Regions from separate parts of the Homo sapiens genome. Here all the other regions are linked to region 2. The links come from fine-mapping of genetic effects on gene expression. A gene starts in region 2. Each other region holds a variant in brackets. All regions are shown on one strand. Distances are from middle to middle.

Region 1 (5,077 bases), 80 kb after region 2:
TGAGTAGATTCCTACGAGTGGATTTGATGGATTATGTGGTAAATTTATATCTAACTTTTCGAGACCCCTTGAATTATTGCCAAGTACCTTCATTTCTTCTCAACCGTCAGAATGCCCAATCTCCCTGTTCAAGATGAGAAATTATAGAGAAAATAAAAACTGCCTTGGTTAGCAAACAAAAAGGAAAAATTCTGCACACTGAGAAACAGTCTTTCATTCTGTTTTTTGTTTTCTTTTTTGTTTTGAGACTGATTATCACTGTGTTGCCCAGGCTAGAGAGCAGTAGCAGGATCATGGCTCACTGCAGCCTCAACCTTCCGGGCTCAAGTGATCCTCCCACCTCTCAGCCTCCCAAGTAATTGGGACTACAGGCACGTACCGCTATGCCTGGCAATTTACTTATTTTTTTTAGACAGGGTCTTACTATGTTGCCCAGGTTGGCCTCAAAATTGTGGATTCAAGCTATCCTTCCACCTCGGCCTCCCAAAATGCTGGGATTACAAGCGAGCCAACATGCCCAGCCAACATCCTTTTTTTTTAACTGAGCCTACTAGCCCCAGAAATGAAGCCCTATGCTGACAAGACTATGGAGCCTGTAAGTTACTTCCATTTATATCAGCTCTTAGAAAATGGCCTGAGAAGGGACTCTGGGTTGGGCTTCTCCATCCCTTTTCCAATATTTCTAACCCTCTGGGTGTCAATCATACCATTTTGTATTCCAAGGGACTTAAATGTTGGCTGGGCCAGTGGCAGGGTGGTGTCCATACTGGGCAGTTTGGGTGGGGTCAGGAGAATTTCAGAGCATAAGCAGGCTTTGACCTGAAGCGTCATCCAGGGGCAATATGGAGGCAGCCATACCTAAAACCGTTGTGAAGAAAGCTACACAAAGGGTGATCTGAAATAACCTTTGCGTGGCTTCTTAAGCCTGCAGACATGAGGTAGTCACTGAAATAGTGACACATGTCTGCACTTACGAGATTCCAATGACCTTTCATTTGCCTGGGGACTGTCCAGAGAAATCTCTTGATACTTAACCCAGCTCTCTCCCTACTGCCCAATCCTCCGTCCAGACTTTTGTATGGACACCCCAGTCCCTTCTCTCTCTATACCTCCCTCCCCAAGCCACCTTCTAAGGCAAGGTGATACTCACCTAATCAGTCTCCTTAGGGAGGAACTTTGACATTCTTTTTCTTCTCAGAGTTTCTGTGCTATTGAAACCCTGTAGTTAGAGTTCTGAGGCTCAATAAGCTTTACATGTATTCATCAGACCTAAATAAAAACAAAGATTGTCTTCTAGTTATATAGGTCAAAATTACAGATACACACACACAGCTTTATACATACATACGTGTAATTTTAAACTGATGAATTTTAATGATCGTTTGGCAAAACATGCCATTATGCAAAGGGGCTTTTACTCGTATAACTTTATATGTTTATTTAGACATTTTAATTAATACGTCTATATGGAGTACAGGTGTATTATCAGTGTAATTAAACTCTGATATGATATTAGAAAGCTACAGTACACTGCAGACAATTTACAAGGGTCATCTCTGGCCTGGTGTTCTCAAAGGCCTCCGGATTTGCCGTTCATCAGGTAAGATGAACAGCTTTGCGTTGCTACCTTCAAAAATTCTTTTTTTTTTTTTTTGAGAGAGAGTCTCGCTCTGTCTCCAGGCTGGAGTGCAACCTCCACCTCCCGGGTTCAAGCGATTCTCCTGCCTCAGCCTCCCGAGTAGCTAGGACCACAGGCGCGCCCAGCTAATTTCTGTATTTTTAGTAGAGACAGGGTTTCATCATGTTGGCCGGGATGGTCTCAATCTCCTGACCTCGTTATCCGCCCGCCTCGGCCTCCCAAAGTGCTGGGATTACAGGGGTGAACCACCGCGCCTGGCCTCAGAAACCATCTCCATCTCCCTTACCACCTGAGGGGTCACTGGTGACCACACCCATGGAATCGGCTGGATCTCCTGCGGGGCTGGACAATTTGACCCTCCTCCTCCCCAGGCCCCGCCCCTTCCCCCCTGAGTCTTTCGGCCTGGGTGGAGGACGCGGCTGCTTCAAGTCCTTGGCTCTGATCCAGGCCACAGATTCCAGGTTAGTGAGCAAGTTTATTTTCTGGCCAGCTACCGCTGTCCCCACTTGTCTGGAGAGTTTGACCCGCTCTGCAGGTCGGGTTGGGGGTGGTTCACGGGTGAAAGAAGAATGAGGGAGACTTCTGCATTTTCAAGTGAACTCAAGTTTGGGAAGGGAGCACAGAAGAGGCACCTTTGCAGCTGGGAATAGGCCGTGTAAAGAGAGTTAAACCTCTATTCTACAAGCTGAAGTATGTAGAGGAGGCAGCTCTGGAAACTGCTTTAGGGAATCACTGCAAACCATTTTGTCAGGCGTGGATTCAGAGTCAGCATCCCTTCCCCCCTTCCCCCGTTCTCCCCTTCCCCCCTTCCCCCTTCCCCCTTCCCCCTTCCCCCTTCCCCTCCCCCATCTCCAGCCTGGCCGCTCCAGGAAGTGAGCACCGTTTATCCCCCACCCCAGGCGGCCCGACTCCTCCCAGAAGGAGTTGGGAGATGAGCCTTCCGCAAACTCCTGACCTGTGGGTCCGTCCGTTCAACGGCCAAAGGCTGGCGGAGGAGGGATCCCCTGCCTTTCTCGGAACGGAACGGAGCAGAGTC[G/A]TGCGTGGTTGAGTTTAGATAAAAGCCGAGTGAGCGCGCTCTGTTCCTTAAGATTAGTTTAAGGTGCCTTGGATTGCTCTGAAGAGCTTTGACCACCTGATATTGCTTACATCTGGAACTTCTTGGCTTCTCATTCCCCAGATGTGCGGGTCAGAGAGGTATGTCTACCGTTCTGTTGACTGGCTCTTATTGTCACTTCTGGCAGAGGTGACAGGGCAGTGAAAGAGATAAGGTCCTTTCCCTTTCGGAACTCATTATATCTTTATTTCTTTTTCTTTCTCACTGCAAATGACCCCACTGAGGTTAGAGACATTTTAATCAGTCAGTCAATAGAGACAGAAATGTGTGGTTAGGAGCATAGATGCCGCAGCCAGACTGCATGTGTTCAAATCCTGACTCTGACAGACACTGGCTGTGTGCCCGAAGACTGTTAACTTGACTTCTTTGAGCTTTAGTTTCTTCCATCTATAAGATGGACGGAGTAATATGTATATCTTAGAGTTTTGGTGAGGATTGAGTGAGACAGATTTAAACACGTAGGAGGCTGCCTGACACAAATTATGGTCATTATTACTGGCAAACTCCATGCCTAGCTTTAAAAAAATGCACAATCAAAACAATTTTTAAATTATAGGTTTCTGAAATGCAGGGGGTAGAAATTCTTTTGAAGTGGAAATTAAATTTTTTGTTTTGAAACTGATTATGTTCCAATTCAAATATTTATTGAGTCCTGTTAGATAATCAATTGCAGATAATAGGTTAAATATAACCCTACACAAAGATAAAAAAAAATGTTATTCCTAAAGTGCAAGAACTCATGCCCAACTCACTTATAAATGCAACTGCCACCTATTTTATTCCACTTTCACTAGGGCTCCCAGCTGGTGGACGGGCCCGCTCTGTCATTCCTAACTCTGAACCCCCAGCCTACACCAGCCCCAGTATCCCCTGCTGAGTCACTGATTTTTATTCTGAAAGCCATTTTGATATCGATGCAAGCTTCCATTCTAAAAGATGCTTCGTATCTAAATAGCAGGCCATTCTCTGTCCCCCTCCCTCTTCTAGCTGTTTTGCACCCTAAATTGTATCCACCTGGGAAAGAAGGTCCTTTATCTAAGGCAGTGCTTCTGAAGCCTTAATGTGCGTAAGAATCACCTAGAGAACTTTAATATTAAAGTGCAGATTCTGAATCATTCCAGGAAAGACTGAGATTCTGCATAAAGAACTCCAAGTGCTTGCAGTGTTGCTAGTTAGCAGACCTTTTTCAGGCGTCTGGTTCTGATTTAATTGGTCCCACCTGGTTGTGAATTTGGGCTCTTTCTTCTGCTAATTTGATGCACTGGGCTCTGGGACTGCAGGCTCTTCTCGTCTGCACTCCTCACAGTCAGAATGCCTTCTCTCAGCCCGTCCACACTGCTCTGGAGACTTGGCCTCAGTTGGAAACTGGCAGCCTCCCATATCTCCCTTGGGCTGCACTTAGCTGCAGTGGGCAGTCAGGGCTTGCTGGTGTGTGGGCAAGGGTCACCTATGCTAACTGTATGCTCCCCTCCTTCACAATTTCTTTCCCAAGCCTCAGCTTTGACAAGAGACCTCAACTCTTACAAATCTTTTTTCTGCTCAAGAATTTTTCTCTGTCTAAAGAGAGTATTAGATGAATATCTACAGCGCATATTAGATAGGAAAAAGACATATAATGAACTAGAAATAGAATGAAGCCACATATGTAATGTTACATACTCAAGTAGCCTCATTAAAAATAAGCGGGTGAAATTAATTTTAATACATTTCATTTAACCCAATACATGCAAAATACAATTAGGACATGTGATCAACATAAAAAAATTAATAAGATCCTTTAACTTTTTTAAACTAAATCTTCAAAATCCAATGTGTATTTTGTACCTAAAGCAACCCATTTCTGAGTAGCCACACTTCAAATGCTCAAGAGCCATATCTGGCTACATGTTTGACAACACAGTTCCATTATGCTTAGAAGATCAGAAACCAAGCTTTTAATTTTTCTTGTATTTTTTTGTTTCTGTCAGTTTATTGAGTTCTATCTAGTAAGTTACAAATTGTAAGCATACAGTTCTGTGAATTTTCACAGTTGCAGTCAGCTGTGTAACCACCACCATGATCATGATACATAAAGGGCATTTCCCTTTATGTATTCACCCTTCAAATTTCCTTATGCCCTTTGCAGTTCAAACTTTTCTCCCACTCCTGGGCCCTGGCTTCCACTGATGTACTTTCAAATACCATAGCTTTCTCTTTTCTAGGATTTCACATAAATAGCATCATACAATAACTTAAATTTGATGTTTGGGTTCTTTCACTTTGCATGCTTTTGAGATTTATCTTGTTGTATATATTAACAGTTTAATTGTTTGGTAATATGCCAC
Region 2 (4,000 bases):
GACTGTTCCAGGCTTGTGGCAGCACTCAGGTCCCTTGGGCTCAGCTGTATCTGAAACATTCCAGGAACAGGGCACTGTGTCAGGATAGCTGCAGCTGGGGGCAGGAAGCCAACCCAGGCCCCATAGGTAGGGTGCAACCCAAGGCAGAAGAACAGGAGCCTCTGTGGCCAGCAGCTGGAGGGCCTGCTCAATCTGCAATATTGCTTGGAATGCTTTAGGGTTGCCTAAGCACTAAGCAGATCAGAAATCTGTGTCTGCTGCAGGAATGTGGGCAGCTGCTGCCTCCACTGTTCACTCAGCTGGGGCATACTTGTGAACAACATAATCTGAGCTGCCAGGTAGGGGTTGTTCATAAGCAACTGCATCATGCCTCCTGTGATCTGGGAGCTGCTCTGCTCATCTGACAGCTGGAGATCACCCTTTAATGTCTGTCTGGAGCTACTTAGAGAAACAGTGGCATCCTTGTATTCTTCTTGAAGCTGCTGGGTAAGCTCTATGCTAGGTAAGGCTGGTATCCAAGCTGGCTGCCGAGTGGCACAGATATGGCTCTGGCCCTTGGTGGAAATCATAGCAGTGTTGGCTTTGGAAGTGTGGTTGACCTTGTTAAGGGTGTCATTGGCTGAGGTGTTTGAAGAGAAACCACCAGAGCTATTATAGATGACTCGGGTTGCAGGATGCTGTGTGAGCTGGTCTTGTTGTTCCTGTGATGGTGGTGGAGGTGGGGGTGAAGACTGGACTTGTTCTAGCACTTGTCCTGCCAGGAGAGCTGTGAAAGGGTTTCCTCCAAAAGGATCTTGCATGCTGTTCAGCATTTGATCATTGATATCAGCATAGTTCTGACCCAGGGCATTATTCCCACCTGGCATTGTCTCTAAGCCCAGATATGGCTGTGGGTTCAGTGGATACTCAAGGTTTTGTGAAGGTTGTTGGATCTGCATTATCTCTTGGATCATAGCAAGGTTCCTGGCCAGCTCCAGAGTCTGCAATAGGATCTCAGAATTATCAAGAAGAAGGCGGGAAACTTCTGGGTTCTGCTGCATCAATTGTTGCGTGTCTAGATGTTCTGAAATGAACTGCCACATGAACTCCATGTTGGACAGAAGCCGCTGGATGCTAGGATTCTCCAGCATCTGTGCTTTGCACTCTGGGTGGCTCACTTCCAAGTTTTGGGTATGCACTTTGGGTGCATCAGACCCCACAAAGTGGGCCAGTTCCACTGGAGCTTGATTCATACCAGTTGGTTGGTGCACTCTGCTGCTGTTTCCTTTGGTGTTTCTGTCCCGGTGGCAGGGATCATTCGTTGGCAGGTCCCGGAAGGAATGGGCTAGAGATCTGGAGCCCTGCTTGGACTTGATGACCAAGTAGATGGTGTGGCCATCCATGATGCCCCTCTGGCTCAGTGTGTCATGGTCTTTGAGAAGGCAACCCATGAAGACCAGCACTAGTTGGTCCATCTGGCATTGGAAGTGAGCCAATAGCATCTCCTTGAACTGCCTTACCGAGATGTCATCAGCTACCATAAAGTCTTTCTGGTTGCCTGCAGTCTTCACTATCACTCGAGTGGCACTTGAAGAGATATTTTTGTCTGCCAGCAGACCTGATGGACATCCACTCTGGGACATCCTGGATGTTCGAGAGATGGCATGCCACATGGGCTTTAGTGGGTGGGCAGATGGGGAGCAGGTGGAAGCTGGGGCAGAAAGGGTGAGGGCAGACAAATGTTTCTGCTGGCCTTTGTCTCAGGTATTGTGCTCTCAGGCCACAGGATAGTTTCCTTGTTGCCCTAAAAGGGATGAGTGACCAGACTGGGGCCAGATATTTTGTGATGTTGTGCCCTCACCCCAGTTCTCCAGATGTGGCCCAGCTGAGGCCTGGCATAGCTACTGATTCATAATTCACCCATGGTGGACAAAGTGGTGATGACTTCTCCTAGGGCTACCCCTCCTCCTACCCCACCCACCAGGGGCATGAATCCTCAGAAAAGGGATATTGTGATGTCAACTCTATCCTCGCAGTCACCCTGGGCCAGCTGGGGAAGGAGGACATATTTAGGGGTCCAGGGCTCTACAATAAAATAAAATAATTTTCCAGAAAACAGGGACAAAGTTCTCTGGATGGAACTAGTAAGAAAACAAAAAAGTAAATAAAAACCATATTTTTAAATGTGGGATGTGTGTTTCCGTGTGATACTGTGTGTATGTTCCTTATAGGGATGTTAGACTTGTATGAAAAGTTGGGTCTACTGAAGCCATAGATAAAGCCACATTCCTATAAGAATGCAGTCTCTCCCATAGGAAGGAGCGCATTAATTTTTTTAATGATCTGGAAATTTGGGTCTTATATAGAGTCTAGATTTTGGGATTCTATATTTAATTGTGCTCCCATGTGGTGGGGAAAATTTTCCTCTGTCCTAGGAAGCAGGAGTAGGGCTAACCAGGAAGGCTCTTCATAGGCACATGCCAAACTAAATGTGAATTAGCTCTTTTTTATAATATGCCTTTTATTCACATATCACTTGGTCTCTTCTACATGTCAATATAACAGAAGTTTTAGAATGATTTGTTTCAATGTCCTAACCCACTCTTGTGTGCCCACCTTTATGTCAAAGCATTAAGGGGGAATGTCGTCTGTAAATCAAGAGGTGGGAGAGGAGGTGGTTAGTAGTAAAATTCTTAAGGGGACAAATACAGGCAACTAAAAAGCTGGATTCTTGGTCCCATGTAAATTTGGAGAATTGTGTTTGGTTTTTATTTAGATGCAGATGGAAATAATTATTTATATGAGTGAGAGTGTACATGTCTTATCGAATGTATATATGAAATTGTATGCATATTCTGTGTTACTAGGAAGCCTTCAGGGTCTGGATTTTATATATTCCATCCACCTGCCTGGAGAGGGAGGAGCACCACACAGATAGCTAAGGAACAAGCAAAAAGCTCGAGCCCATATGTTCCCAGTGTGTTGAAGACAAGCAAAGGGATGATAGGCCGTTGGCCAGGAGACCTTCTGCTATCAAACCAATGATTCTTTATTGAGAATATCTAGACCCCCAGCACCATCCATGTCAGATCCTCATCATGCTATAAGGCCAGTTGCTAACTTACTACAGCAAGACTCAGGCCTATTCTCTTGCAATTGCACTCAAAAGTGAGATCGATCCAGGACAATGAAAAATTGATTACCAGACCAAGATCTTGCCCCTTTTCTCCCCAGGGACCTCACAGGAAGGTGGAGATAAGAAAGGGAACTTTCATATCCTACTCTAATGACCAGCTGCCCTGCAGCTTCTGCACTGGAATCAGGTGTTCCCAACCTGAGATTGACAATTCTAGATCACAGAACTCTTGAGTTCCGGGAGCTGGATTTATGAAAAAAGGAATATGAGATGCCAAAGCATCAGAAAGAGAGGGTACCATTTTCTTAGCTAATATTTTACTTTTTCCCTATCAAATCCACCTAGACCATTATTAAAGGGAACCTTAATGTACTGATTGAGATATTAATTACATAAAGAACTCACTAGATATAATCAGTCTTCCAATCATTAGGACCAATGGCCACTTTGGGATGTGGTCCTCCTGGAGGTAAGGAAGAGGGCACACTTCTACCAATGCTCTGCCTAGCCCTGGGGTCTCAGGGTCTGGAAGCCTCGTTAGGTTTGACAGGTTTTGGTGGAGCATGAGCCCCAGAGGGCCTCCTGGTGGGTGGTCTTGGTAGCCTGGTCTTCATTGTCAGGAAGGTGAGGTCATAATTTATCAGGTAACCATCACTGAAGACATACGGCTTGTGGTCTGAGGGGCAGTAGTTGATGCCCTGCAGCTTTTCCAGCATCTTGTCCAACAGGATGCTGAGGCGGCGCTCCTGCCCGGTGGTGGTGTCAAAAGCATAGAAGATCTCCTCTTGGTGGGTGTTCAGTGAGTGTAAGGCATAGAGCACCCCACAGGCCATGAAGGCCCCTGACAGGGCTGGCTTGTACTGGCTGGTACGCCAGGTTTTCTCC
Region 3 (5,077 bases), 100 kb after region 2:
AAAGTGCTGGAATTACAGGCTTGGGCCACCGCGCATGGCCTGGGCTCAATCTTTATAGTGGTCCTATGAAAATAGGTACTGTCATTATCCTTTTTTTAAAAAAAATGAGAAAATGGAGGTACAGTGAGATGAAAGAATTTGCTCAAAGTTGGACACATATGAAGTGGCAGAATTGACCTACAAAACAGGGCAGCAAAATTCAGAGGCAACATTTTTATTCATTTCTGTCTGTTAGAAATCTGAAAAGGTCAGTGTGTGAGTCAAATCCTACTTTGATACCTATTTTTGTAAATGTACTTTATTGGAATATCACCATGCTTATTTATGTATCATCTGTGACTGCTTTCAAGTTACAACAGCAGTGTTGACTGGTTGCAACAGAGACTGCTTGACCTGCAAATCCTAAAATATTTACTGTTTGACCAGCCTGACCAACATGGTGAAACCCCATCTCTACTAAAAATACAAAAATTAGCCGGGCATGGTGGCCCGCGCCTGTAATTCCAGCTACTTGGGAGGCTGAGGCAGGGGAATCGCTTGAACCCAGGAGGCAAAGGTTGCAGTGAGCCGAGATCACACCACTGCACTCCAGCCTGGGCAACAGAGTGAGACTCCATCTCAAAAACAAACAAACAAACAAACAAATAGTCAAAGTAATGTATAATGCTCAAAATGTAATCTTAGGCCTAATGAAGGAATAGACTCCTATATTACTCATAAATGATATAAGTAATATTAAACTTGGGGTCTAGCTTACGTGACCAAGATAATGATGAAAACTTTAAGTTGAAAGCTTATGTTGAAAAACAAAATAAAATCATTTCATATGCAAATTTTAACACCACAGTCAGGAATGTCAATGGATATACAGGGTAAAAGAAGAGAGAAAATTAACCTAGATGATAAACTGTATACATTGCATATTGATTAATCTACTATAAAACAATGGCACAAGTACATGATTGTTTTGATTCTTGAACCTTGATTGATTATAGATAGCATCAAATGTAGTATACTCTGGGGGAGAAAAGATTGGACTATGAGAGGAAATTCTATTTTAAGCTTTGTACAATTATAAGACATAAGGAGGACACAAATCTCATTAAGGGCAGATTTGGGAGAGAAACAGTGACAAAGCTAAAACCGTGACTTATTTGGGAAACATCAGTGTAGCATGATAAGGACAAGCCATTTTATATCACTCACATGAGCAGGCTTCATGTCATTGGGTAAAAATTCACAGTAATCCTGGAGAAAATGAAGAATGTGTGAATCAATGTATTGTGTGCAAACGGTGATATGAGGGTAGCCTGAGTCATATGAACTCCCTGGGAAAAACGACCAGCTTTGTGTATGTAGCAAGTGGACTTGGTACTCCTATTACCTAAAAAGAGCCTCTGCAAGTACTTATTGACAAAAGTTGACATCTACTCTGCATATGGAATAGCTGTCCCTGCCTCTCAGGCATTTTGTACCATAAAGGCCAACAGATTGCCATTATCAATATTTTGATGTCCTCAAAACAGTTTCAGTGGTAACCACATGATCGTACAAGAATACGCCTCCTTCATTCTGTTGCCAGAGAAGTACAGGAATCTTCAGTTCTTTGTCTTATTTGGAGAAAGCATTCTGCTTTCCAGTCTTTTCCAGTGGAGAGTAGGCCTTTGTTATGGGGGATGCTCTGAACATATTTCAGAATGGTTCTTTTACTCTCTCTCTGCCAGAAAAGAAAGGATCTTTTTCTTGGCTTTCCACTATGGGAACTCACTTTGGTTTTTGGAGGTAAATTCCAAGCAAGTGGGGCGGGGGCGGGGCCCTAAGTCTAGGTGCTAGGAGTTTCTCTCTCTCAAGCTAGTCCATAATCAGCCTCCGGCAATTTGTCAGAACTACTATTTAAGTGTTCCTACCAGTATATGACTCAGGCAACTCCTGTTTTAAATTTTTTTTTTTTTTTTTTTTTTTTTTTTTTTTTTGAGACTGAGCCTCACTCTGTTGCCCAGGCTAGAGTAGTGGTGTGATCTCGGCTCACTGCAACCTCTGTCTCCTGGGTTCAAGCGATCCTCCTGTCTCAGCCTCCCGAGTAACTGGGATTACAGGCGCCCACCACCATGCCCGGCTAATTTTTGTATTTTTGTAGACAGGGTTTCGACATGTTGGCCAGGCTGGTCTCAAACTCCTGACCTCAAGTGATCCACCCGCCTCAGCCTCCCAAAGTGCTGGGATTACAGGTGTGAGCCACTGCGCCCGTCCTGACTCATGCAACTTCTGCTTCAGGTAAGCAGATTTAGGCTGTTTATTCTGTGTTTACCTGTCTCTACATTTTGGGGTGGCAGTTTTTTTCCTGTGACTTTATCTGATGAGACTTAGGAAAGTCATTGATTTTTAGTTGGTTTAGCTTTTTTTTCCTTTTCTTTCTTCTTTTTTTTTTTTTTTTTTTTTTTTTGTTGAGACTGAGTCTCACTCTGTCGCCCAGGCTGGAGTGCGGCGGCGGGATCTCGGCTCACTGCAACCTCCGCCTCCTGGGTTCTATGGATTCTCCTGCCTCAACCTCCCAAGTAACTGGGACTACAGGCGCGCGCCACTGCACCCAGCTAAGCTTTTGTATTTTTAGTAGAGACGGGGTTTCACCATGTTGGCCAGATTGGTCTCGAATTCCTTGGCCAGACTGGACTCTAACTCCTGAACTCGTGATCCGCCCGCCTCAGCCTCCTATAGTGCTGGGATTACAGGAGTGAGCCACTGCGTCCAGCCAAGCTTTTTTTCTCTTGTGAGGGTT[G/A]CAGTAATGAGTCTCAAGCTCTTTACATGTTGGAACTAAAACTGGAAGTTCCTGGTATTCTTTTCTACTTCTGTAGTAATTCTCTTTCTTTGGAAATCACTTTCTCTGTCTGCCCAGCTAAGTCTCCATTTTTCAGGTTATGGGTGCACATTATGCCTTACGGTGGGAGGGGCAGAAGTACTGTCATGGGCTCCCTCTGCAATGGTGTTTGTCAGTGTTCTCTTCCTCCAGATTAGCTTCTTCTTTCCATTAAGTGAGAGGCTCTGGTAGACCTCAGGAATGAAGCAAAGCCTGTTCTGCTCCTACAGTGAGATAGCAAGGCAAAAGCTGCTGTGCAGTGTTCACATAGTATATATGGTAGAGTCCCTGTGTCTTTTGGCATTTTTGTTGCCAACTATCCTTTCTCTGCTTCTAAACTAGTAAAGCAGTTACTGTTCTGGTCCCAGCTTTACTAGAATATTTTTAGTCCCCATATCTTGGTGACCTTTGGTGGGGGAAGCGATTCCAAGTTAGATACAGGCAGTTTCTCTATGTGTAGACACACATTCCTATCTCCAGCACTCATCCATAGCAACTGGAGGAAATTCACTTCTATCCATTTTCCTTTAACCCCTGCATCCCAGTCACCCCTTTATTGCAATGCCCGAGGCTCTGGATCACTCCAGGCTGCTGCACTCTCTTAAATTCCAGGTAACTCTTTTGGGATATTTATGACTTTCATTTTCAGGGCTTTGGGACCTGGGAGAATGGTGTGAGTAAAGCCAGAGGGATCTGAGAAGACAGATACTTTACTCCTGCACTGGTGTCTCTAGATAATTTCCCAGCTGGCTCTCTCTGCCTGTGTAAACAAGCCTTGAGGATATGACCCTTGCCAACTCTTGTTAGCCACTCCTGTTTACATAGAGCTCTAAGTACATGCCCATGGAAATAGCTGCATATTCTTGAATGACTAAACTTGCTCATTTTTCTGTCCAGGTCATTTCTGCTATCCAGAAGCACAGCTCAGCTGAGAGTGAGGCACCAGAAGAATGCCTAAGAGTTTCCAAAAGTGATGATTTTTCTACCATTAATATATTATATGTTGGTAGTATGAAAGGAAAATAAATCTTGGAGCTTCAAAATCACTAGGCCAAATAGAAAAGTCAAGCTGGGAACTGCTTAGGGCAAACCTGCCTCCCATTCTATTCAAAGTCATCCCTCTGCTCACTGACATAAATGCCTATCTGATTGACTCCTTTGAAAAGGCTAATCAGAAACTCAAAAGAATGCAACAGGTTGTCCTTCACCAACCTGTGACCTGGAAGCCCCCTCCCTGCTTGAGTTGTCCTGCCTTTTCAGATGGAACCAATGTACATCTCACATTTATTGATTGATGTCTCATGTCTCTCTAAAATGTATACAACCAAGTTGTGCTCTGATCACCTTGGGCACATGTTGTCAGGACCTCCTGAGGCTGTCAGGGACACATGTCTTCAGCCTTGGTAAAATAAACTTTCTATATTATCTGAGATCTGTCTCAGATTTTCGGGGTTCAGACTAGACAGTTGTTAAGAAAATAACAAAAAGACATTAAAGACATAGCATAGTTGCATGTCCATTGAACTCAGAGAAATGAGTTTTTTAAAAAGGAAAAAACTCAGCTGGGCGCGGTGGCTCACACCTGTAATCCCAGGACTTCGGGAGGCCGAGGCAAGCAGATCATGAGGTCAAGAGTTTGAGACCATCCTGGCCAACATGGTGAAACCCTGCCTCTATTAAAAATACAAAAAATTAGCCGGGCGTTGTGGCAGGTGCCTGTAGTCCCGGCTACTTGGGAGGCTGAGGAAGGAGAATGGCGTGAACCCGGCAGGCGGAGCTTGTAGTGAGCCGAGATCACGCCACTGCACTCCAGCCTGGGCGACAGAGCGAGACTACCTCTCAAAAAAAAAAAAAAGAAAAAAAGAAAAATTAGCTGGACGTGGTGGCGCATGCCTGTAATCCCAGCTACTCAGGAGGCTGAGGTAGGAGAATCGAACCTGGGAGGCGGAGGTTGCGGTGAGCCAAGATCATGCCATTGCACTCCAGTCTGGGCGACAAGAACGAAACTCCATCTCAAAAAAACAAACAAACAAATAAAAAAAACCGGAAAAAACTCAAGTGAACAAAATGAATGATGAAAAATTGAATGTCATCCACACAGAACTGATGGGCTAAGGTAATATACACATCTCAACACATGCTTTAACAAATCTGTCTGATGCTTTACTATTGTAAATGAAAGAGTATCTGAGAAAACTCTCAATCAATTTAGGAAGTTTATTT
Region 4 (5,077 bases), 110 kb after region 2:
TTCTTGCTATTATAATACTTTTATTTATTTTGTTTATTTTTATTTTTTTATTTTTTGAGACAGAGTCTTGCTCTGACACCCAGGCTGGAGTGCAGTGGTGCGATCTCGGCTCACTGCAACCTCCGCCTCCCGGGTTCAAGCAATTCTCCTGCCTCAGCCTCCTGAGTAGCTGGGATTACAGGCGCATGCCACCATGCCCGGCTAATTTTTTTTTTTTTTTTTTGTAATTTTAGTAGAGACGGGGGTTTCACCATGTTAGCCAGGGTGGTCTCGAACTCCTGACCTTGTGATCCGCCCGCCTCAACCTCCCAAAGTTCTGGGATTACAGGTGTGAGCCACCACAGTTGGCTTTATAATACTTTTAATTTCAAAAGCCGCAATTACTTTTGCACTAACCTGATAGTAATTGACTCCCTTAAAAGTAGTCAAAGCATATTCCCAAGGTATTGGATGTGGATACATTTTTGTGGGAAAGTTGTTAAACTTCCAACAAGTTTATAATTGTCCTTGATCACCATGCATGAGTCAGATGGAGAGGGCAAAAATGAAAATTGTACCTTGTCAGGTGGTTTCCAAAGGTGGCACCTTTTATTATGTAATGTGCTCTACAGGAGGTAGACTAGGATTGTTTTGATGCATACAGCACAGAAAATGAATCTATCAACTTATATTCCTCATGAAAATGGAGCATGCTGTTTGTGGAGGCACAATGTGGGGTCATCCTGTGACCAAACGAGTGGCAACTCTTGTTCAAGTTTCCTCCTCGTTCGGTTTGATTTCAAGGTTACCTCAGTTTCAAAGCAGCCCTTTCTGTCCAGGGCACAAAACTCCTGATTTACTACTTACAACTAGTGGTTCTCAGCCTCAGATTCGCGTAAAAATTACCTGGAAGACTTTTCATTTTTAAATAATGTTACTGATATATATGTTATATGCAATAATATGCACCCATTTACTGTGCACAGTTTGATGAGTTTTGAAAAAGTTTTACCCCTTTTAAAGATTTAGAGCATTTCCAACACTCCCAAAAGTTCCCCAGGTCCTTTGTAGCCAACTTTTCTCAGCACCATCCACCTCTCCGCCACCCATCCTCCATCTCCTAGCGGGTGACATGGTACTTTGGTAGGTAGCACACAAGTGGATCGTTGGAGCTGAAGGATAATTCAAATTGGTAAACTGATTCGAGGGACCATGTGCAACCATGAAAGTGGTAGGAGAAGGGGAGTTGGGTGTTTAGCTGGCCTGGGAGGCAGGGAAGGTTAAAACAGGGCTTTTCAAACACAGCACTATTGATGTTTTGGAATGGATCATTCTTTGCTGTGGGAACTGTCCCATACATTGTAGAATGCTTAGCGGCATCTGTGACCTGTACCCACTAAGATGCCAGTAGCATTCCCCTAGTTAACAACCAAATATCTCTTCAGACATTGCCAAATGTGCCATCTAGTGCAAATCCTCCATTCTGCCCTCGAGAATCACTGGATTAAGAGCATTACCTTCTGTCCAGAGGCTCTAAAGGACTACACAGCTCATTTCACCTAGACGCTCCTTCCCCTTTTCTCTTCCTGACAGCCCCAAAAATTTCACTTTCATTTCTCAGGCAGTTCCTCCTCAGGAGGGAGGGACTTCTTCACACAGAGGAACCTCATTTGTTGAATGAATCCTGACCACACCCACCCTGGCTTTTCTTCACCTCTTCAACCAGGAGCCGAGATTTCTGTTGCTCTGAAGGTGTGTGGGGAGGTTTGTGGGGGGTAGAGGGTATGAGACTCCAGGAGAAAAGTTCTCAGTGAAGTTAGGGGAATTTGATTTATGGCCCCAAGTCTCCCCTGCTCTGTCGGGAGCAAAGGCTAGCTTGCAGGCTTCCTGCTTTGAGTGCACACTGATAGCAGCCTAGAGTCTGGGGAGGGACAGCCTTGAAAGCAGTGTTAAAGAGGCAGAAGGCCGCCTTTGTTTTCTGGGGTGTCTTTTTTTCCTCCAGGCTGAATCTATTTCCATTCCCTTCCTATTGTATAATTTTGATTTTCTACCTTGCAAAGGAAACAATTCTCTCTCTCTCTTTCTCTCTCTCAAAGAGATGAACAGAAGATCTCTTATTTTCCACCTCCTACTCCCTCCTCAAAAGAGAAGTTGGTGAAAGGAGGTCTCTGTTTTCCAAGTGTGTGCAGGGCTTAGCTCCTAGTATGTGGCGTCAGATAGAATGGAGCCATGGGAGCACGGCCAGGGGTTGAAGTGGGTTCTTTTGCTGCCCTCCTGGCAACCACTAAGGGGCTTTCTGTGGCCATCCTCACGTATTCTTAGTCCTTGGCCTCCCTGACAATAGCAGGTTGAGTGATGTGACTGCCGCACACCGCTCTGTTCCCTCTGTTCCTATGTCTTTCTGCA[G/GGTC]GTCTCAGGGCTCTCCTTGCACATCCCTGAACATACCTGTTTACTTTTACTTCAGTAACCCATGTGCTACCAGCGTCTTCACCTGTCTCAGAACTTGCTCCTCATCATTCTTCCTCTTAGACACACCTTGGCATTGATTTGTAACCTCAATTTGTTATTGCTTTTCTTTGCTCACAATTACTTAACAGAAGTTGTTCATTGTGGGCTCAGAAGGAGCCCACGGATTTAATCTTCTTGTTAAGAATTTGATATAGAGTATGTCCTATCTTAAGCTCACTTGTGAGCAATTTGCACCTTGATTGATATGTTACAGATATTCTGACACATGCCATTCTGGCCTCTGCTCTCACCCTTCAGAGTTCACTGTAACTGCCATCCTGTGTCTCTGCCTTACTCCTGGGTAGAATCCATGTCTGCCTACATACTGACTGTCTCCCAGAGGCGTCTAGTCAGGCACAAGACCCAACATATGGGATAAAATTGATTATAAAGCAGGCTGCTAATGTAAAAACGTGCAATTAGCATCCATTTAACATTCAATAAATATGAAATATACGTGGAAGCCTACATCCAAATAGAAAGTGATCATAGACCATATCGATGAATGTTAGAGTACACAAGAAGATGACTAATACTATGGAGTAACATCTTCAAGAAGTTACATTAGGGTAATGACTCTGTAAAGACCTCATGAAGGCCTTGCAACTTTAAATAGTTTTTATGAAAGTTTTAAATAGTTTTCATTGTAAGAACACATTTGAGTAGAATCTTAAGAATGCGAGGAAATTAAAGGCTTTAATGGTTTTTCCCACGGGCTTAAAAGGAGAACAGTGTGGAAGATTAAGATGGGAGTGTGCCTGGAGAGGCATAAAAGGTGAGTTCTTACCAGGCGCGGTGGTTCACGCTTGTAATCCCAGCACTTAGGGAGGACAAGGCAGGAAGATCACCAGAGATCAGGAGTTCAAGACCAGCCTGGCCAATGTGGTGAAACTGTGTCTCTACTAAAAAAATGCAAAAATTAGCCGGGTGTGGTGGCGGATGCCTGTAGTCCCAGCTACTCGGGAGGCTGAGGCAGGAGAATCAGTTGAACCCAGGAGGTGGAGGTTGCAGTGAGCCAAGATCTCGCCATTGTACTCCAGCCTGGGGGAAAAGAGCAAGACTCTGTCTCAAAAAAAAAAAAAAATATGGTGAGCTCTGAGGATTGAGGCAGTGGGAAGGCATGTGTGATGTGGACCTAACTGGACCATTATGAAGTCTGGCCTCGCTCTGGGTGGCATGGGTTTGAACAGGAGAGTGACATGATTGACATCTGCTTTAAGGTGATCACTCTGTCTACTGATGTAAGAACAGAGATGAGAGCAGAGTGAAGAAGGACAGTGATGGGTGGGCACAGTAGCTCACACCTGTAATCCCAGCACTGTGGGAGGCCAAGGCGGGTGGATCACCTGAGGTGGATCATGAGTTTGAGACCAGCCTGGCCAACATGGTGAAACTCTCTCTACTAAAAATACAAAAATTAGCTGGGCGTTGTGGCAGGCACCTGTAATCCCAGCTACTCGGGAGGCTGAGGCAAGAGAAGCGCTTGAACCCAGCAAGCAGAGGTTGCAGTGAGCCGAGATCATGCCACCACACTCCAACCTGGGTAACAAGAGCAAAACTCCGTCTCAAAAAAAAAGGAAGGGCAATGATAGTATCAGCAAGACTAGTGGAAGAACAATTTCCTGAATTCAGGTGGTTTCTACCAGAGTGGTGGCAGTTGAGGTGGTTGGAAACTAATTTGAAAAAAAACTCTTTCAGCATATTCTCACGAAGTAACAGACAGAAAAAGACATTAGGGATTGCTTAATGAAAATGATTCTATGTTAAAAAATAGCTTTTTGGAGATATATTGACCAGAACACTACAGCTCTTGGGGAGAGAGTCATTAATGTGGTATAGATTGGGCCCTGGACTCTAAGGAGTAGCTGAAGCAAGAACTCAGTGCACAGAGGAATGGGGAGGAGATGCTACAATGTTTCTGAGCTCTCAGGGTCTCTGGATGTCAAAACAGGCTCTACTTTCCTTATTGGCAGTTTCTGACCAAGAATCCAGAAGAAGTGTCTAGGATATTGTCTAGAAACTTCAAAAGACATCCTCCCCTAAAAGTCACTCGTAGAGACACTCTAATTTTACTATCTACCTGCAGAGAGACTTAAAGTTTGCATTATCATATCCAGATGTTAGGAGTCCAGATGTTAGGAGAAGACTCAAATGAAGGGTATAATCACCTGGCAGCTATGGTAACCAGGTAACCTGGGAGTTCTGTCAGGCCAATGGCACTCATGTTCCCTTCTCTACCTCCCTGACTGCTGCTGGGCTTGAGCCACACTGGGAAGTGGTGGGGTCATTTCTCACACGTGGGACCGTGGTTACTCTGCACTTTTCTCATTCTTTTGCCATTATGGTGGCAGCAGCTTTGGCATCAACATGCATCCTCACTGTGAACATGAAGTCACAGCCCGTGGCAGAATGCATGTTCTACTACTTCCTCTCCTGGAGCCCCCCGGTATTTCTAACTATTGGTTGGATACTGATTGGAATAAAAGATAACAAAGAACCCCACATCTGTGGTTGGCTCATGGCTTTAGCCATAAACAGGGGTGAATATTATCATATCATATAAACTCCTTGTCTTACTAGTCATCAGATCCTG
Region 5 (5,077 bases), 130 kb after region 2:
GTCAAAAAATTTTTTTCATCCCTAGGAGTGAGATCTGGAGGCTGAAAAAGCCAAAAATGGTTTCCAAGAAACTGAAGACTGTATTCCATGCTCCAGATCTGAGTAGGATGCTGCAAATGTTTAGAGGTGAGGAGAAGCAGACAAAGACTGTGGATGTGGGATTGTTGTGGTGTCAGGTAATAAACTGTCTAGGTGGGATAACTTAAAATTGAGGACAGAAGAGAGGAGGGAGGTCAGAGAATAAGGAATATTCTGTGGTGAAGAGGATGCATTTATATGTAAGGAAAAATGGCTAGGTCTCTGGTTTATCTTTTTAATTCACTAGCTCACAGCTTCATGGTATTCCCTTCCCCTGTCCCTACTCTAAAGAATATATAGGTATCAGTGCTTACTCCTTTGTTTCTAATCAGCATCACTGAATCTTTTATTATTTCAGAACTGACAGCTGTCCGGTGCTACTGGGGTAAGAAAAAGTTAGTCTTTAAATAACTGTTTTCCAATTACCTTTCAGAAGTTTATGGTTTCAATGATATCTTCTGATCTTAGCCTCATGCATTCTCAGCACCTCCCAAAACATTTGCTAAATACATTTCTCCAGTGTTTTACCCCTCCAATTCATCAGTGCAAGTTTTTCAGTCACTTCCCAAGTTCGTTCATCACCATGTCACTAGATAAACCTACTCCATATCTGTCACCTAATCATATATATCACACAGATGATTATATTCATATACATATATATATATTTTTTTTTTTCTTGCAGTGGATGTCACACTGAATTCAGTCAACCTAAATTTGAATCTTGTCCTTTCAGAAGATCAGAGACAAGTGATATCTGTGCCAATTTGGCCTTTTCAGTGTTATAATTATGGTGTCTTGGGATCCCAATATTTCTCCTCTGGGAAACATTACTGGGAAGTGGACGTGTCCAAGAAAACTGCCTGGATCCTGGGGGTATACTGTAGAACATATTCCCGCCATATGAAGTATGTTGTTAGAAGATGTGCAAATCGTCAAAATCTTTACACCAAATACAGACCTCTATTTGGCTACTGGGTTATAGGGTTACAGAATAAATGTAAGTATGGTGTCTTTGAAGAGTCTTTGTCCTCTGATCCCGAGGTTTTGACTCTCTCCATGGCTGTGCCTCCCTGCCGTGTTGGGGTTTTCCTCGACTATGAAGCAGGCATTGTCTCATTTTTCAATGTCACAAGCCATGGCTCCCTCATTTACAAGTTCTCTAAATGTTGCTTTTCTCAGCCTGTTTATCCATATTTCAATCCTTGGAACTGTCCAGCTCCCATGACTCTATGCCCACCAAGCTCTTGAATTTTCTCATTTCTTCACCTACAACCCTTTGTCTTGACTTATCTCCTGCAACTGACTCATCTGCAACATTCACACCATTGCTTCCTTGTGGTTTCCCTTCTTTAGAACTTTTACTCATCCTTGAGATGTATGGTGTATTTGGCTTGAGTTATGAGAGATGCTTATTTATTCATTTACTCTTTTTCATATTTTCAGAGAAAGTTACCTAATCCCTCCTAAAGACACAGCAGTATGGGTATAACATCCTTGCCTTCCCATTTATCCATGTTTCACTTTATCACTGATATGAAGAGGCCCAAAGCCTGTTAGCCACCATCCATGCTACCTAGGTAGTCCATAGGAACCACCCCCATGACCACCACCAACATCAACTAAAGGTTCTTGGAGGGTATGTCAGTGTGTTGCTCAGGATACCCCAGGTACATCAAGGAATCAAGGAGAGGAAAATATGAGCAATATGTGTATTCAGAGTGAAGATTTTATGTCCAGAGTATTTGAGCTCAAACCTTGCCTGTTGTTTTCTAATCATGATGAATACTTTCTCAGTTTCTTTTTCCTGAAATATAAATTGGGATTTAAGACTGTACCTAACTATTAAGATCACTGTGTAAAACTAAGTGTCTCTAAATGTAATGCATCGATTTAGTGTCTGGAACATAATAAATATTTGCTCTCATGATTGCTAAAAAGTGTGAGCTGTAGTAATGTCCTGTGCAATAGTTTTGTGGCCTTCAGAGGAATAGTAGTTGATTTTACTGAAGTCTCATTTTTCAAGTTCCCAGACTCCACTGTTAAGACCACTCCAATTTTAGTTTTGTTTTATAGAACTTTTTATACTGAGAGTGGGACTGTTTTTTTTCTTTTTTATTGTACATATTTAAGATATATATACTATGATGTTTTGATACACACTTACATGGTAAAGTGATTACTACAGCCAAGTAAATTATACATCCACTGTATCATATAGTTACCGTGTGTCGGGGGGGTGGTGGTTAGTGCATTTAAAATCTTTCTTAGCAAATTCCCAGTAGACAATACAATATTAACTAGAATCCTTGAAATAGTTGGGATTTTTGTCCTGCCCAAATCTCATGTTGAAATGTAATCCCCAGTGTTGGAGGTGGGGCCTGGTGGGAGGTGATTGGATCATGGGGGCCTCATGGAGGGCCTCGCACCATCCCCATGGTAATGAATACATTCTTGCTGTGAGTTCTTGGGAGATCTGGTTATTTAAGAGTGTGGCACTTCCTCCTGTCTCTGTATTGTTCCCACTCTTGCCAGAGATGTTCCTGTTCCTGC[T/A]AATGTTAGGATAAAAAAGTGATTATATTTGACAAAAAAAATTTAAGTTAGTACAACAATAAAAAAGTACGATAGGCTGGGTGCCTTGGCTCATGCCGGTAATCCCAGCCAGCACTTTGGGATCCCAGCCAGCACTTTGGGAGGCCGAGAAGAGAGGATCACGTGAGGTCAGGAGTTCAAGACTGGCCTGGCCAAAATTGCAAAACCCTGTCTCTACTAAAAATACAAAAATTAGCTGGATGTGGTGGCGAGCCCCTGTAATCCCACCTACTTGGGAGGCTGAGGCATGAGAATCGCTTGAACCTGGGAGGCGGAGGTTGCAGTGAGCTGAGATTGCACCACTGCACTCCAGCCTGGGCAACAAGAGCAAAACTCTGTCTCAAAAAAAAAAAAAAAAAACTGTGAAAAAAGTGGTTTGTTATATAGATCACCAAAAAATTATGAAACATTGTCATACAATTCAATGCTAGGTTTTAAATCTCTGTAAAATGAATAGGTTAAAATTAACAATCTTACAATCAGGAAGAAGCAGAAAATTCCGTAGAACCACAATAATAAAATGATGTAAACATTATAAAATTATATGTGTTCAAGTGCATAGAATGAGAGTACTTTTGAAGGTCTAATGTTTTGGGTCAGTTCTACAATCAGGAAGAAAAAAAGACAGGCCTACCTTTCCTTCTTCAGAAGAGAGTGGGGACAGAGGAGATTTGATGAGGGTCAAGTCTAGGAAAAGCTTCACTTTTGCTCATTGTATGTTGATTCTCTGGATACATTCCCACCTGTTCTTTGCCCTGATGATGAGACTTTTACCCAGATGTGACAACTGCTCTCTTCATCTCATCTAGTCTTCTGGAAAAAAAAAAAAAATATATATATATATATCTATATATAGATATATATAGATATATATATAGATATATAAAACATGTATATTAAATGTATATTAATATGTGTATGTATTTATAACATATGTGTAATTTATAATTATATATAATACATATATACATATGTATAGTACACATAAATATATTAGATTATATATGTATAATACATATAAATGTATACATTTTAATATACATGTATATTATATAAATATACATATACACACGTACACACACACATATCCCCAAATACACCAACCACCCTCATGTTTCTTCCCAGAATTCCAACCACCAGAGGCACAGCTTTTTTGGAAATATCATTTTACCACAGTAGCACTGGATGTCTGTCCACTCTGAAATGATAAAAATTCATAATATTGACTATATGCAAAGGAGGCAGCACTGACGTCAATTTTTTCTCCAGAACAGAGAAAGAGGAGGGGACTATGTTAGGGCAATGAATTTGCGAATAATAGCATGAAACAGTCTCTTGGTTATTCTCCATCAAATATGACCACATCATCAGCACACAATGTCCATCCTCCCTTATCTCTTCCATCTACGCCTAGAAACTGCTCTCTTCCCTGTCTAGCACCTGCCACCACTAGACTACTGCAGATCTAGTTGTTCTAGCTCTTCTCATCTTTACACGCTTGAAGCATTCCTCTTAGATGAGAAGCTCAACACACTTCCCTTTATTCTTTGGGAAACGTTTTTAGCTTAAGTCAAATTCTCACCCCTAGGAATGAAAAAAAATTGACTCCCAAACCTCTGACTTTGTAACCCTTGGACACCACTGATTTCCTATCATTTCACCCCACTGATGTACTTGAACTCTGTTCCCTGAGAAGGGAGAGGGCAGACCCTTGACCCTAGAACCAGACAAAATGTACTCGTGTCCACTTTCTCCCTTACTCTCTGTATGACCATGGGATGGTCTTAACCTCTCAGAAGCACAGTTTCTTCCTTCCAAAATGAAATAATTAATCTCTCCCTCTCTACCTTCTTGAGCTCATAGGACATGAAGAAATAATGGATTTTAAAAAAAACAAACAAAAAAACTTTGGTGCCTTAACAAAACGATTTAATGTGTGGAAACATCATTGCTATGGATGTGGGTTACCAGAAAGATGGTTAGACAGTGAGGTTGCAGGACCTGGCTCCTGGGTGTTTGAGACGTATCAGGAGAGGAATCCTGTCTGGAGAGGCCTAAGACCTTCAAAGCCTATTTCCACTAGAGAAGTGCTCAGATAATATCTGAGGTTCCATGTTTTTTGGGGAAAATTACCAATACTTGGCAAAGGGGATTTTATGAATACCAAACTAATAGTGGTCTGAATTTTGTGTGTTTAGAAAAGCTCTATATTGTCAAGTAGGTGTACAGTTTTAGACACTAAGATGTCACCTTTTCATACTCTTCTAAAGTATCTGACTGAGATGAATCAATTGTTTACACCAAGGAAAAAAACTATTCCAGAAATGCATATCTCTTTTTTTAAATCTAAATAGAATCACAAGGAAGGATCTGTTCTCTTCTATACCCACAGGAAAAATATAAATAT
Region 6 (5,077 bases), 150 kb after region 2:
ACCATATTGGCCTAGCTGGTCTCGAAATCCTGATCTTGTGATCTGCCCACCTCAGCCTCCCAAAGTGCTGGGATTACAAGCGTAAGCCACTGCGTCCGGCTCATTCTTGTTTTTCAAAGCAGCAAGTACATATATTGTTAACTGAGTTTTTAGTGTTCTACCCAGTAACAACTGAGGTCTGCCTTCAAGTGAAAAGCCACAGAAACAGGAAACTCCCCCAATACTGTTGTCTTTTTCTAAGTGTCTATTACCCTGAATATTCTGATTGCTTGTCACTTTCTAGTGCCTTCAGGTTTGATTTTTACATTTTGTCCAAGGTTTCTAATGTTGGATCTGTGGGTGAGGGCATGCAGTTTTATTAGAATATATACCTTCATTAATGGAAATAGAACCTCAGTTTTGCTCACTCTAGACAATCTTTAACTATATGTTAAATTGATTGATTTTACGCTTTCTTTCTCTACCAAACTGCCGGATTTTTTTTTCAGTGTGGTTGTAATGTTTTGCACTGCCACATAATTCAGAAAGAAAATAATGGTGGTGTTGGAGTATGGTGGTTAATACAAAGATATTATTAAGTTTAGATAGGCCGGGCGCAGTGGCTCACGCCTGTAATCCCAGCACTTTCGGAGGCCGAGGCGGGCGGATCTTGAGGTCAGGAGATCGGGACCATCCTGGCTAACACGGTGAAACCCTGACTCTACTAAAAATACCAAAAATTAGCTGGGCATGGTGGCAGGTGCCTGTAGTGCCAGCTACTCGGGAGACTGAGGCAGGAGAATGGCGTGAACCCAGGAGGTGGAGGTTGCAGTGAGCCGAAATCGCGCCACTGCACTCCAGCCTGGGCGACAGAGAGAGACTCCGTCTCAAAAAAAAAAAAAAAAAAAAAAAAAAAAAAAAAAAAAAAAAAAAAAAAGATTAGATATATGTTTAGGCATATTATGAGATTTAACTTATGTATCTTATTGATACTGAATAGGATCAAGGAGCTCAGAACATAATTGTTACCTTGTGACAAGTATAGCATCAAGAAGGAGTATTGGTTGCAATGTCCAAAGAAAAAAACCAAAGAGATCTCTTTTCCAAAGAGCTCTCCTCTGCCCGATGCTTATTCCATCCCATCCCTCCAACACATCATATAAACGTTCTTTTACTTTTCTCTCCCTTTGAATCTTAGAATTGGCTCTTCATCAGGGCACCTTCTCTTTAGCCCCTACGAACTCTCATTCTGCTTCTTCGTATTCTTTGTCCTCCCACTGGTTTCTGCTTGAGGCCTGCTCCCATTCTTTACTCAGTGTCCTGCAGAACAGTCTTCAAGCAATCCCTGTTTTTTTTCACAACCTCTTTTCTCTGTGCTTCTCCCCAGATTGTACCAAAATTCTAGCCAGATATGCCTAATTAATGGCCCAGCATAGATCTGAAGTCTCAGAATAGAAGACGACATAATTGTTACTCAGAGGTTCAGAAGTGATGGGGAGGGAACATCCTAGAACTGATACACAGGCAGAGAGAAAATCCACAGTTGACGTCCATTAGCCTTTTGGAGCACAGGTTGCCTTCTTCAGCCTTTTACTGAGAAGACGGAGTGTAACTCAGAGCAATTCATAAGCTTCATATTCTTTTCAGCTGAGAGGTTCATTACTAGGGCCAGGAGCATCTGTTTGAAAAAATCCTTCAGTGTGCAGATCTTTTCTGTTGTATATACAAATTCAGGTCTTTATTGTTGTGTAACTGGGTACTTCATCCTGAGCTGTGGGACTTGGCTTTCCAGGAAATGAAAAGGCATTAATGTCCCTGGAGAGTCACTTGCCAATAATTCAAGCTAGTCCAGACTGTTCCCAGTGAGTGAAAGCCTCAATCTTCATAGCATTGGGTGACAGGAAAGCAGAGGTAAAAGGGAAAATTTATAGCATCAACCTCCTCGGTTTCCCTGGATGGTGCTGAGGTAGAGAGGTGTGTGCACACACATAGTTACTGAAAATATTCACCTTGGAATCCCTTCTCTGACTAAAGTTACCACAAAGATAGAGACCTTAAAATTTCTGTGGGGAAGCAGGGTGAAGAGCAGAGACTATTTGATGAGGTAGACCATTAAAACAAAACAAAAAACTTCAGCTCAAAACTTGGGAAAGAGTTGGAAATAAAAATGCCAATAGACATAGGGATCCTACCATGCCCTTCATAAACATCCGTTGCAAAAATAATTCTCCTCACTGAACAAGGAGAACAAGTATTTTTTTGTCATTTATGAAAATTACCATGCCTTTGTTACTTTAATGAAGAGTCAGGCTAACCTGGGCTCACAATTCACTTATCGATACCATTGTTGAGAAATGCCACATGTACTTCTGACTTTATCTGCATCACTGTGCAAAATACGTTTTTACTACTTGGCAAACAGGAAAAATTTACAATGAAATTAGAGTACTCAGAAATACTTAAAACAACTTAAGACTAGGCAGCTATGAAATTAAGAACAAAGATTTTTTTTCCCATTTATAAACACTTATTTTAAAACTTTCTACAAGAAAAATCTGTGATTTTTAACTTAGTTCTTGTATTTCTTCAAACGAAGGGAGAAAGATAATTTTGAAAAGAACTATTACATATTGTTAAAAATTATTGCTTTCAGTCACAGTGAGAGGGAACCAAAAATTAATAGACACCA[T/C]AATGAGGCCGGGCATGGTGGCTCACACCTATAATCCTAGCACTTTGGGAGGTAAAGTGGGCAGATCGCCTGAGCCCAGGGCTTCGGGATCCGCCTGGGCAACATAGTGAAACCCTGTCTCTACCAAAAATACAAAAAATAACCAGGGCGTGGTGGTGCGTGACTGTAGTCCCAGCTACTCAGGAGGCTGAGGTGGAAGGATGAACCCTGGAGATGGAGGTTGCAGTGAGCCGAGATCGTGCCATTGCACTCCAGCTTGGGTGACAGAGACAAACCCTGTCTCAAAACAAACAAACAAACAAACAAACAAACAAACAAAAAAGCCCAACACCATAATGGATTACCCCTTACATGCTAGAAATGAGTGAAGCTATTCAAAAAACTCGTTTAACTTTTAAAAAACTACATCAGCTAATTTTATTATAATTATTTTTTACAATTAATAAACTGATTCCCACATAATTCAGTTTGTTTGATAAAGACTAATATGTAGCAACACTAGAATTACAATAAAATCCTAAATATATGTGTGTATTATATATAGAAGGCAGAATTGAAGTCATTTTGACAGTAGTATCTGAGATCTAAAAAATGAGAATTTAGTAAATCCAATCCTAGTTTCCCTGAAGGCACAACCTGTTCCATGAGACATTAACAGAGTTTATGTTTTTCAATAATTTGTAGAACAAGTACTTATTAGATCAAGACACTTAGATAGATGCTTTATACTTCAGGAATTTATTTTTTCACAATGATCCAAAGTATTAGATGAAGGTTTTTTGTTTTATTTTGCTTTTAATTGACAAATAATAAATATACATATTTATGTGGTACAGTGTGATGTTTTGATACATGTATACATTGCGTAATAACCGAACCAGGGTAATTAGCATATCCATCACCTCAAATATGTGTCATTTCTTTGTGTTGAGAACTTTCAAAATCCTCTCTTCTAGCTATTTCAAAATATATGCAATAGGTTATTGTTAACTCTAGTCACCCTACTATGCAATAAAACATTAGCACTTATTTAATGTGAAGTTTTTAATACAAAAATTATTTTAAGAAAATAAGCACAGGCTGGGCGCCGTGGCTCACGCCTGTAATCCCAGCACTTTGGGAGGCCGAGGCGGGTGGATCACCTGAGGTCAGAGGTTCTAGACGAGCCTAACCAACATGGGGAAACCCCGTCTCTACTGAAAATACAAATTTAGCCAGGGGTGGTGGTGGGCACCTGTAATCCCAGCTACTTGGGAGGCTGAGGCAGGAGAATTGCTTGAATCTGAGAGGTGGAGGTTGCAGTGAACCGAGATCGTGCCATTGCACTCCAGCCTGGGGAACAAGAGCAAAACTTCATCTCAAAAAAAAAAAAAAAGAAAAAAGAAAAGAAAAGGAAATAAGCACAGCCATTTAAGTATGTTATTCACAGTTACACTGCTGGTATATGGAGAGACAGGAGTTGAACTGAGATCCTCTAGATACAAAACCTCTATACTTAAGAGTATACCATTTATGATATTTTCTCTTTAACTCACAAATAAGGGCATCGAGGGTAAACTGACACAGGGCTAAGGACTCATTCATTGGTGAACAATTATCACACGATGATATAGAAAGGCTGTTGAAAAGCTTTTCTTCATCTTCTTAGTCAGTGTCAGAGGCAATTGGGTGATAAATATCTGGCAGAAGTAATACCTAAATAGCGGTCTCATTTTATGAGGTATAGGTCAGTTTTCCTTAGGAGTACGGAAAATGATGAAAAAAATTGCTATCAAATGTCAATAAAATATTGGGGACAATATGGCACAAGGCAATTATTACATTTTACTGATGAGTGAAGGACGTTCAAATAGAAAGAAGGGAGACAGCAAGGAAAAGATGGTTAAAATGATGCAAATGAGTTCAGGTGTATGAGATGCACCTGGACAAGAGGTGCTGTACAGAAGGGGCTGAGTGTGTAAGAAGGTTCAAGAGCTTGGTGAGCACAGAGTCATGGGGACTCCACATTTTCTAGGATTTAAATATGGAAATACAGGCTGAGAAAAAGAACAGTGAGAAAACTTATAGATGAGAAATCCATGGTTTGTGATATTGAAGAATGAGACAGTGCAAGCCTCATAGTCTAGGAAAACTCCAACACGATCAGGACAAATAATCACAGAGAGGGGCACAATGAAAGGAACAGAAGGAGTATGGAAGGAACTATCCTGGAAAGCACTACATTTAACTCCTTCCTCTAACCCTATAACCCAGTAGCCGTATTTAGGTTGATAATTTTCATTTTTTTCAATATTACACATTGCATCAGGTTGGAAGCCAGCACATACCCCCAGGATCCAAGCAGTTTTCTTGGACACGTCTACCTCCCAGTAATGTTTCCCTGATGTGATACTTTGAGAGCCCAGGATG

Which allele goes with the higher level. Positions count from the first base shown, and alleles are read on the strand shown. Sizes are in standard deviations (SD) of each study's normalised expression. Not every link is listed here.
For the expression in esophagus mucosa of the gene that starts at base 1,910 in region 2, A is the high allele of the variant in region 1 and G is the other (moderate effect, 0.41 SD a copy in GTEx).

Evidence for each region.
Region 1: its variant is fine-mapped to the expression of UBQLNL in esophagus mucosa (GTEx, PIP above 0.99). The same link has a PIP of 0.9 or more in lymphoblastoid cells.
Region 3: its variant is fine-mapped to the expression of UBQLNL in whole blood (INTERVAL, PIP above 0.99).
Region 4: its variant is fine-mapped to the expression of UBQLNL in lung (GTEx, PIP 0.95). The same link has a PIP of 0.9 or more in Th2 cells.
Region 5: its variant is fine-mapped to the expression of UBQLNL in whole blood (TOPMed, PIP above 0.99).
Region 6: its variant is fine-mapped to the expression of UBQLNL in sun-exposed skin (GTEx, PIP 0.97).

The regions. Positions count from the first base shown.
Region 1 is chr11:5,594,082-5,599,158 of GRCh38, forward strand. It overlaps TRIM6 (tripartite motif containing 6), which reads left to right and starts at 2,556. Exons shown (of 8, transcript NM_001003818.3): 1 at 2,556-2,833. The coding sequence starts at 2,817. It overlaps TRIM6-TRIM34 (TRIM6-TRIM34 readthrough), which reads left to right and starts at 2,556. Exons shown (of 14, transcript NM_001003819.4): 1 at 2,556-2,833. The coding sequence starts at 2,817. It also overlaps a transcript of TRIM5 not described here. RefSeq lists enhancers at 1,878-2,172, 2,327-3,244, 2,491-2,540. The variant G/A (reference allele first, on the strand shown) is at 2,676.
Region 2 is chr11:5,514,790-5,518,789 of GRCh38, forward strand. It overlaps UBQLNL (ubiquilin like), which reads right to left and starts at 1,910. Exons shown (of 1, transcript NM_145053.5): 1 at 1-1,910. The coding sequence starts at 1,652. The coding sequence ends at 225. It also overlaps the pseudogene OLFM5P.
Region 3 is chr11:5,617,750-5,622,826 of GRCh38, forward strand. All of the region lies in intron 7 of TRIM6-TRIM34 (TRIM6-TRIM34 readthrough), which reads left to right. It also overlaps a transcript of TRIM5 not described here and a transcript of TRIM34 not described here. Among named protein-coding and RNA genes, the nearest start is that of TRIM34, 4.7 kb to the right of the region's middle. RefSeq lists an enhancer at 3,684-4,292. The variant G/A (reference allele first, on the strand shown) is at 2,777.
Region 4 is chr11:5,623,330-5,628,406 of GRCh38, forward strand. The region is part of intron 7 of TRIM6-TRIM34 (TRIM6-TRIM34 readthrough); the gene reads left to right. It overlaps TRIM34 (tripartite motif containing 34), which reads left to right and starts at 1,672. Exons shown (of 8, transcript NM_021616.6): 1 at 1,672-1,731. It also overlaps a transcript of TRIM5 not described here. RefSeq lists enhancers at 1,281-1,360, 1,451-1,720, 2,091-2,190. The variant G/GGTC (reference allele first, on the strand shown) is at 2,386.
Region 5 is chr11:5,642,381-5,647,457 of GRCh38, forward strand. TRIM6-TRIM34 (TRIM6-TRIM34 readthrough) reads left to right here. Exons shown (of 14, transcript NM_001003819.4): 12 at 26-126; 13 at 437-463; 14 at 764-2,018. The coding sequence ends at 1,329. TRIM34 (tripartite motif containing 34) reads left to right here. Exons shown (of 8, transcript NM_021616.6): 6 at 26-126; 7 at 437-463; 8 at 764-2,018. The coding sequence ends at 1,329. It also overlaps a transcript of TRIM5 not described here. Among named protein-coding and RNA genes, the nearest start is that of TRIM34, 20 kb to the left of the region's middle. The variant T/A (reference allele first, on the strand shown) is at 2,632.
Region 6 is chr11:5,660,174-5,665,250 of GRCh38, forward strand. It overlaps TRIM5 (tripartite motif containing 5), which reads right to left. Exons shown (of 8, transcript NM_033034.3): 8 at 3,022-5,077. The coding sequence ends at 4,636. LOC107984302 (a long non-coding RNA gene) reads right to left here and starts at 659. Exons shown (of 2, transcript XR_001748100.1): 1 at 1-659. The variant T/C (reference allele first, on the strand shown) is at 2,669.